3 separate regions of the Homo sapiens genome follow, and all the other regions are linked to region 3. The links come from fine-mapping of genetic effects on gene expression. A gene starts in region 3. Each other region holds a variant in brackets. All regions are shown on one strand. Distances are between the middles of the regions.

The links. PIP is the estimated chance that this variant, and not a neighbour inherited with it, causes the effect. A credible set is the group of variants that fine-mapping cannot tell apart.
Region 1: its variant is the best candidate, but not a certain one, in a credible set for the expression of ANAPC7 in whole blood (INTERVAL, PIP 0.68).
Region 2: its variant is the best candidate, but not a certain one, in a credible set for the expression of ANAPC7 in unexposed skin (GTEx, PIP 0.59).

What each region holds. Positions count from the first base shown.
Region 1 is chr12:110,284,309-110,287,071 of GRCh38, forward strand. The region is part of intron 3 of ATP2A2 (ATPase sarcoplasmic/endoplasmic reticulum Ca2+ transporting 2); the gene reads left to right. Among named protein-coding and RNA genes, the nearest start is that of ATP2A2, 4.4 kb to the left of the region's middle. The variant T/C (reference allele first, on the strand shown) is at 1,090.
Region 2 is chr12:110,654,548-110,657,310 of GRCh38, forward strand. It overlaps HVCN1 (hydrogen voltage gated channel 1), which reads right to left. Exons shown (of 8, transcript NM_032369.4): 5 at 687-791. Among named protein-coding and RNA genes, the nearest start is that of HVCN1, 33 kb to the right of the region's middle. The variant G/A (reference allele first, on the strand shown) is at 1,643.
Region 3 is chr12:110,402,411-110,405,173 of GRCh38, forward strand. ANAPC7 (anaphase promoting complex subunit 7) reads right to left here and starts at 1,298. Exons shown (of 11, transcript NM_016238.3): 1 at 1,117-1,298. The coding sequence starts at 1,217.

The DNA.
Region 1 (2,763 bases), 120 kb before region 3:
TTTAACTGGGTACATAATAGCGTTGGCAGTTAAATAATGGGGTCCGATAAGGTCATTGGGAACTTCTTAAAAATTAATCAGCTGACTACAAGCCAGAAGCAAAATACATTTTTACTGAATTCTCTGTGTTACAAGTTGAAGCAGTGTGGGAAACCATGCCACTGGTGTTACTATTGGGGTTGCACTGGGTCTGTTTTTTGAGTGGCCAGTTTGAGTGACTTTATATTAGCATTTTAAATTAATGATGTGTGTGGGTTTTGTTTGTTCATTTTTTACTTTGAAGTAATTAGAGGCTTATAGTTTGTAAGCATTTCAAGCAGGTTTTTAAATAAATGCTTTAATTTTTTTTATAAGATAGGACCTTGGCTTTGTGGAGCATTATAGAGCTATATTTTGGAGTTGAAATTTGAGCTCCTTTTTGGTAACTGTGGAGTTACTGCTCAGGAAATGAACTGTGTTACATTTTTATTTTATGAGTTGGTAAATAGCAAAAGAATAAGTGTTTAGGGAGTACTTCTATAGAATTAATTTGCTTTGGTTTGTTTGATCAAGGAATTGCAGATATAAGACCTGTTGTGTTGATTTTCTTCATGTGGGGTTGGGTACTGCTGCTGCATTGTCTTTAGTGTTTCATTCCTCCTGTCTGTATCTTTTAAAAGAAAGAGCACTGACTCTCTTTTTGTGTCAGTTTATTCCTATTGATGTAACAGAAAAAACATGGTAGAATATTCAGGTTTTTTTGGAGAAGTGACTAGGCGATTCTTATATACATCATGCGTCATCAAGTCATGCTTAAATTAAAAAGAATATTAGTGACTTACTTCAAATATCAAACTAAGTAGTAAACTGTTAACTATAGTTAATATTTTGCTGTGGCATAGAATAGGAAGCTATGCTTGTGACCTGTAGGGATCTAGTTTAATTTGTAATATTGGCCAAAGTGTTTTTTTGAAACGGTCACTTGGATTGAAAGAAATAAGCTTCATCTTCCAGTGCATATGAACATTAGAAATTGCTTAATTTGACACTGAAGACCCCCCCTCTATCATTCACTTTATCTTTTCATTCTCTTCTTGATTACCAACTTTG[T/C]TCTAAATGTAACACATCGTATGGTTGCTTAACTGATGCCTGCCCTTTCTTCTCTTTTCCTGCTTTGTTAAGATATTTATTGAGCACCTGTCACAGACACTGGGGATACAGTAGTGAATAAAACAGACAGAGACCCTTACCTGGAGGATAATACTGCTGAGAAAAATAAAGCAAGGGGGTTTGGATATCAGAGTATGTGAAAGGGGGAACAGTTTTCAAATTGGGTGGTCCGGAAAGTTCTTGAGGAAGGTGACATTTGCGAAAAGATCTGAAGGAGGTGGGCATTAGGGCCATGTTGGTCTCCCATCTGTCTAAATCATAAAGTCATAATTAATATGGTAATAATTTGCATAGGTTTCTCTACCTTCCACCGTCGTTTCCCATGTCAGCTACTTAGATTGACCCTAAAATGCTAATAAAACTTTCTAGACTGTGGTACTTCTCAACCTTTAGGTTACATTTGACCATTTGCATGTGTGTGTCTCTTTTCTTCCTACTAGACCCCCTTGAGTTAGTGCTTTTTTTTTTTTTTTTTTTTAAATGTAGATGGAGTCTCACTCTTGTTGCCCGGGCTGGAGCGCAGTGGTGCAATCTCGGCTCACTGCAACCTCCACCTCCTGGGTTCAAGTGATTCTCCTGCCTCAGCCTCCTGAGTAGCTGGGATTACAGATGTCCACCACCACGCCCGGCTAATTTTTGTATTTTTAGTAGAGATGGGGTTTACCTTTGTTGGCCAGGCTGGTCTCGAACTCCTGACCTCAGGTTATCACCTGCCTCAGCCTCCCAAAGTGCTGGGATTACAGGCATGAACCACTGCGCCTGGCCTAAGTTAGTGCTTTTGATGTCACAAAAACTTGGGTGAGTTTGTTTCAGTAGAATTTTCTGAAAATACATGAGATCTTTTTACTGTAGTTTCTCAGAAGAGAATACTCAAAGCATTTGATACTGGATTTGTAGTGATTTTAATTTTCTTCTGTATCTTTTAATTTTTGATTTTAAAAATGGGATAAGAAGGGCAAATTACTGATTGGTTTAACTAGTTTATTCAGAGCTTTTCTTAAAATAATGACTTGAAAGGTGGATTTAATAGAGTACTTTTTAAAAAGATTGTTTTCTCATGCCTGAAAGCATTGAATGTTTTTACATAGCTTTATATCTGGATCAGAAGGGAACGAGTTCTAATTCATGCTTTTTTTTCCGTTTTATTAATGACTGAAAGTCCTCCCCCAGAAATTATCGTAACGTTTATTGGTAATTCTCTGTATCATTCTCGAAATGTTTAATTTCCATTTCCTCTTTATTTAAAAAAAAAAAAAAACTTGATGTAAATTTCTTCATTTATTGAGCAATTGTTTGAGGGCCCAAAGGCACAGTGCAAGTTTCTGAGAATACTAGGAGCAAAATGTGCTTATGATCTTTTTAAGCACTTTTTTCTTTCGTTTTCTTTTTATGATACTAAGAGCTCTTCCTATTATCACAGTGTATAGATATCTGAGTCACAATATCATGACTGTCTCCCAGTTTACAGCAGAACGTGCTTTTTACCTTGGATTAAAATTTGCTTTATTTGGCCGGGTGCAGTGAGTGGCTCATGCCTGTAATCCCAGCACTTTGAGAGGCCGAGGTGGGTGGATCATTTGAGGTCAGGAGTTCGAGACCAGCCTGGCCAACATG
Region 2 (2,763 bases), 250 kb after region 3:
GGCTCACTGCAGCCTCCGCCTCTGGGGTTCAAGCGATTCTCCTGCCTCAGCCTCCTGAGTAGCTGGGATTACAGGCGCATGCCACCACGCCCAGCTACTTTTTTGTACTTTTAGTAGAGATTTGGTTTCATTATGTTGGCCAGGCTGGTCTCGAACTCCTGACCTCAGGTGATCCACCCGCCTTGTCCTCCCAAAGTGCAGAGACTAAAGGTGTGAGCCACCATGCCCAACCAGGGATGATTTTAACTCTCTTGATCTCCGCCCTTGGAACTGAGACAGGGTATGTCCACCACCCTTTGGGTGAACATCTGGGATGGGCTCAGTAACTGAATCAGTGAATAAACAGCAGATCCCCTGATGGCCCAGCAAGGGGACCATGCAGACCATCAACAGAAGACAGGAGGAATGCCCCTCCTGACCCAGAGATGGCAGAGTGGATCCACCCCACATGCTCCAGCTCACTAGCCTAGCATCGCCCAGGATTCCAGCCATCATGTGAAACAACGTTTCCTGCTTGTAGTAAATGCTAATCCATATTCTGGAAAGGAAGACGAAAACACCTATCAAACTACCACAGACCTTGCTACTCCAAGTGGGGTGTCAGCTGCTCCACTCTGCACCCCGTCTGTGCAGATAACACAAGCAAAACATATCAGTAAGACCCCAGAAGAGCTGTCAACCCCTACCATGGCAGCATAGTTATTCTTGTCGGGCTGGATGATCTTCAGGTCCAGGATGAGCTCAGCAAGCACCAGGAGGGCATCCAGAACCACCAAGCAGATGATGATGACCTGTGGGCCGAGGGAAGGTGCCAGAGATCATGAGACCCCCACAGAGGCCCTCCCTCTCCCATCATTAAGAGCTGGCTTGGAAGCACGTGGGTGAAACCACTGGGCAAAGCCATTAAGGATGGGAGGCTACTGCTATAGCTCGCCAGAGGCCCCACCAGGATGGAGGCTGTGCAGGGCCAGCTCCTCTCTGATAGAAGCTGCCAGCCTCCTTCCCGCCACCCTCCTGGCCTGCTCTGCCTCTAGGCGCTGCCCACCTTCCCTGCCCTCCCAGAACATCTCTGGCTCATTTTCTGACCTTTGGTCACTGTTTCCCAAATACCACCTCTCAAACCAAACTGCCCATACCTAGATGGCAACAAATAATCAGTTTTTTTTTTTTTTTTTGAGACAGAGTCTTGTTTTGTCACCGAGGCTGGAGTACAGTGGCATGATCTCGCCTCACTGCAACCTCTGCCTCCTGAGTTCAAGCAATTCTCCCACTTCAGCCTCCCGAGTAGCTGGGATAACAGGCACGTACCACCATGCCTGGCTAATTTTTGTATTTTTAGTAGAGATGGTGTTTCACCATGTTAGCCAGGCTGGTCTCGAGCTCCTAACCCCAAGTGATCCACCCACCTTGGCCTCCCAAAGTGCTGGGATTACAGGCATAAGCCACCGTGCCCAGGCAAGTTTGTATTTTTCTGTTCCTGGGGACTGCTGTTGCTGGGGTGCTCACAGAACAGATGCTCAATAAATAATTCAACACAGCCCTGCCTCGGCAGTCCGAGTCCTGGAAGGGACCTTGGGGACTGCTGACTGCAGGTTCCTTGGCTACAGGGACGGCTGCTGTGCTTACAAACTAGCTTCTGCCT[G/A]GAGATGCGAGGTACCTGCCCCAGCTCTCGTGTGCTCATAGTGGGTGAAGATGGTGAAGGGGAGAGGAGTCCTGGTGTCCTGGAGAATTCAGGAGAGCTGCTATGGGAAACACAGCCTCCTGGGCTTTGTGATGGGCTGACAGAGGACAGGTGGGGAGCAGTGTGGAGTGGGTGGGTGGTCTCACTGATGGTGGCTGTGGGAAGCAGCTGGTGGTGATGGCAGTCACGGTGACAGCTGGTGATGATGTTGGCGAGGGCACTGATGGCAGGGTGGAGGTGACAGTGTTGGGGTTACCATAATGGCAGTGGAGATGCAGCAGTGGGAGGAGCCCCAAAGGACCTCGAGTGACCCTTCTCTTCCCTTGGAAATTCCAGGCCATCACCGTACCCACCCCCCCGCCAGGGCCTTGCCGCTCACACTCTCAGATCAGTAGATTCTGGCCTCTGAAAATTAACCTGCCATTATCTTGGCAATTTCTGCAGTTTCAGGTTAAAATTAAACAAGTTCAGGCCTCTGCAAGAACAGACTATTAATCCTTTGATCCTTTCAACCTGTAGGTAATTATTTCAGTAATTAAAGTATTATGATGTGGTTTCTTGTGAAAATTGCATGGCAAATTGCTTTGTAATGAAGTTTTCACACATATTCAAATTCAGCAAGCTTAATAAAGGTGCAAGCCTCTAGTAGGGTTTTTGTTGTTGTTTTTCCTTGGTTTTATTTTGGAACTAAAGGGATCTGAGAGCTCATGTGAGGTAAAACCAAGTCACAGAGCTACAAGGAACAGACCCAATATTCAGCCATGAAAAGGATGAGGTTCTGACCCCCGCTCCTATGAAATCGTCATTCTAAGTCAAAGAAGGCAGACAGACAAGATCACACATTATATGATCCCATCTAATGAAATGTCCAGAAATGGCAAATCCAGAGACAGAATGCAGGTTCACAGTTGCCCAGGGCTAGGGGAGGGGGAATGGGGAGTGACTGCTAATGGGTACCAGGTTTCCATTTGAAAATGCTCTGGGGCCGGACACGGTGGCTCATGCCTGTAATCCCAGCACTTTGGGAGGCAGAGGCGGGCAGATCACCTGAGGTCAGGAGTTCGAGACCAGCCTGGCTAACA
Region 3 (2,763 bases):
GCTCCGCCTCCCGGGTTCACGTTATTCTTCTGCCTCAGCCTCCCGAGTAGCTGGGACTACAGGCGCCCGCCACCACGCCTGGCTAAATTTTTTTGGTATTTTTTAAGCAGAGACGGGGTTACACTGTGTTAGCCAGGATGATCTCGATCTCCTGACCTCGTGATCCGCCCGCCTCGGCCTCCCAAAGTGCTGGGATTACAGGCATGAGCCACTACGCCCGGCCAATAAAGGATATTAAGCAGGAGAGGGACATGCACTCAAGGATGGAATCAGCTCAGTGCTTCAAGGAAACATGAAAGGCGCCACGCCCACCCATTAATGGAGTCTCCCGTTTCCTTTTTTTGAGACAGGCAGTCGTTCTGTCGCCCACGGTAAAGGACAATGATGCGATCACGGCTCACTGCAGCCTCGACCTCCTGGGTTCAAGCGATCCTCCTGCCTCAGCCTCCCGAGTAGCTGGGACCGCAGGCACGCACCATCACGCCCGGCTAATTGTTTAATTTTTACTTTTCGTAGAGGCAGGGTCTCCCTATGTTGCCCAGGTTGGTCTTGAACTCCTGGGCTCAAGCGATCCTCCCGCCTCGGCCTCCCAAAGGGCTCGTATTAGAGGCGTGAGCCACCGCGCCCGGCCCCGTTTTCAGGGGTTTCCCAAGGCCAGAAAGTGGACCCTCCTGATACACTTAACGGGGGGACCAATCTCAGATGCGGGGGCTAGCGCATAAAAACCAGGAGGCTGGGTCCCTGAGCTGCAGCGAGAGAAAAAAACGTTCTTCTGGAAGGAGCCGAGAGGGAAGGATTCAGCCTAGCGATGTGACAGTCGCGCTGCCCCGCGACAGGTGCCTCAGGAAACCCTCGCCTGGGTCGTCCTCAGAGCCTCTGCCTTCTATGTCTCCAAGCCGCCGCTCGCCACATCCCCGCGGGACTTGACGCCGGCACCCAGTGAACCCAACTTGCGCTCCGAAGTCTGCTCCGCTCCAGGACGCCCTCGCAGACCCCGGAGCCTCCGCTGGCGCCGGCGGCCGCTCCTTCCCGCCTGTTCCCACGTGCCCTGAGCCCCCGCTCCCAGACCGCCGCCGCTTTCTCCTCAGCCCCAGGCAGCTACCCGCCTCAACTCACGGGTTGTTATTACTCATTGTAAGTAACAAGCTGCTGAGGAGCCGCACGTTGGAGTGCAGCCCCGCGGCCGCCATGTCCCGCACGTGGTCTATCACATTCATCCTGCTCTGCAAAGCCGCGGGCAGCGGCGGCAGCACTGACTCGAAAAGCCGGTAGAGGATCCTTAGGGAAGACTCCAAAATGGCGGCGTCGCCGGGGTCCATCGGGTCCACACGCGGCACCACCCCCAAGCAAGAGGTAACTACTGAAGTGCCCGAATAAAAAGAAACTCGAGTCCCTGCTCCTGTCGTGGTCCTTTTCAGGTGAAATGAGTTGTTATTTTTACGCAAAAATCACGTTATCATCCTAAACTGCAAACTTTACTGAGGATTTACAATGAGACAAAAGGCACCTTATAAGACTACTCGGTCAATTTGAATGAGTCTGAGAGGAATTTGTGCCTCTCAGAAATTAAAATGTGTGGGTATTTACCGAAATAAAATACAGTAAGGTGAGGAAAAACGCTCCAACTGGAATTAAATATTCTAATCGGGCGCCAGGGACAGACCTAACGGCCTTTACAGTGGCGCATGCGCACCAGGCTAGGGCCGCCGCGCCCCTCCTCAGGTGTTTTGTGTTCCTGCCAAGTCAGGCTTCGGCCCTGGGGGAACTCCTTGGTTCGAGGGGTATATTTCCCCATGTAAAATTATTCCCTAGATCCGTGGAAATAAAGGCTGGATCCAGGAATTAGCTGATACCCATATAAACCAGTATGTGTCTGGCACACTTAACGTTTTAGGAAAGTTTTACACAAGTTATTGGGACGCTCACAACAATCCATAAAGTTGAAGTTGTCATTCCCTTCCCACAAGGGAAGAAACTGCCTGCTTAAATTTTGTGCTCAGGTTGTTAAATGGTTGACTTGGAATCAGATCGACTGGTTAATTATGTTGGATCGCAAACTCAAATGTATACAGGGACCAGGGAGGTAACTGAGCCAATGAGGCAGTTTAGGTCGTTGAGTCAGAGTCCGAATATTCTCCACAGTCATCCTCTCAGATCTAGCCTATCGCTCCTTTCTTAAAGGAGACAGTCGTTTTGGTCTAGATTTTGTTTTCATTTGATTTTTACAGTAGTAGATGCAAAAAAAATGCTCTGAAAAAATCACAGTGTATCTTCATCAGCAACTTTTTCAGCTCTTAACATTTTGTCACAGTTGAAGCTCCTGTAGATCCTTTTCCCATCTCATCCCCTACTCTAGTTTCCTGGATGTGTGAGACCTTCTATTTGATTTTGGTGGGCATCATCACTGTGAACTTTTCTTTTTTCTTTTTTTCGAGACGGAGTTTTGCTCTTGTCGCCCAGGCTGGAGTGCAAAATCTCAGCTCACTGCAACCTCTGTCACCCGGGTTCAAGGAATTCTCCCTGCCTCAGCTTCCCGAGTAGCTGGGATTACAGGCGCCTGCCACCACTGTCATGTGCGTCCGTGTGAAGAGACCACCAAACAGGCTTTGTGTGAGCAACAAGGCTGTTTGTTTCACCTGGGTGCAGGCAGGATGGTAGCAGCACGAGCCATAGGCAAAACTCCTCAGACACCAAGTTAAAGAAGGAAGGAGTATATTCGGCTGGGAGCATCAGCAAGGCTCCTGTCTCAAGAGCCGAGCTCCC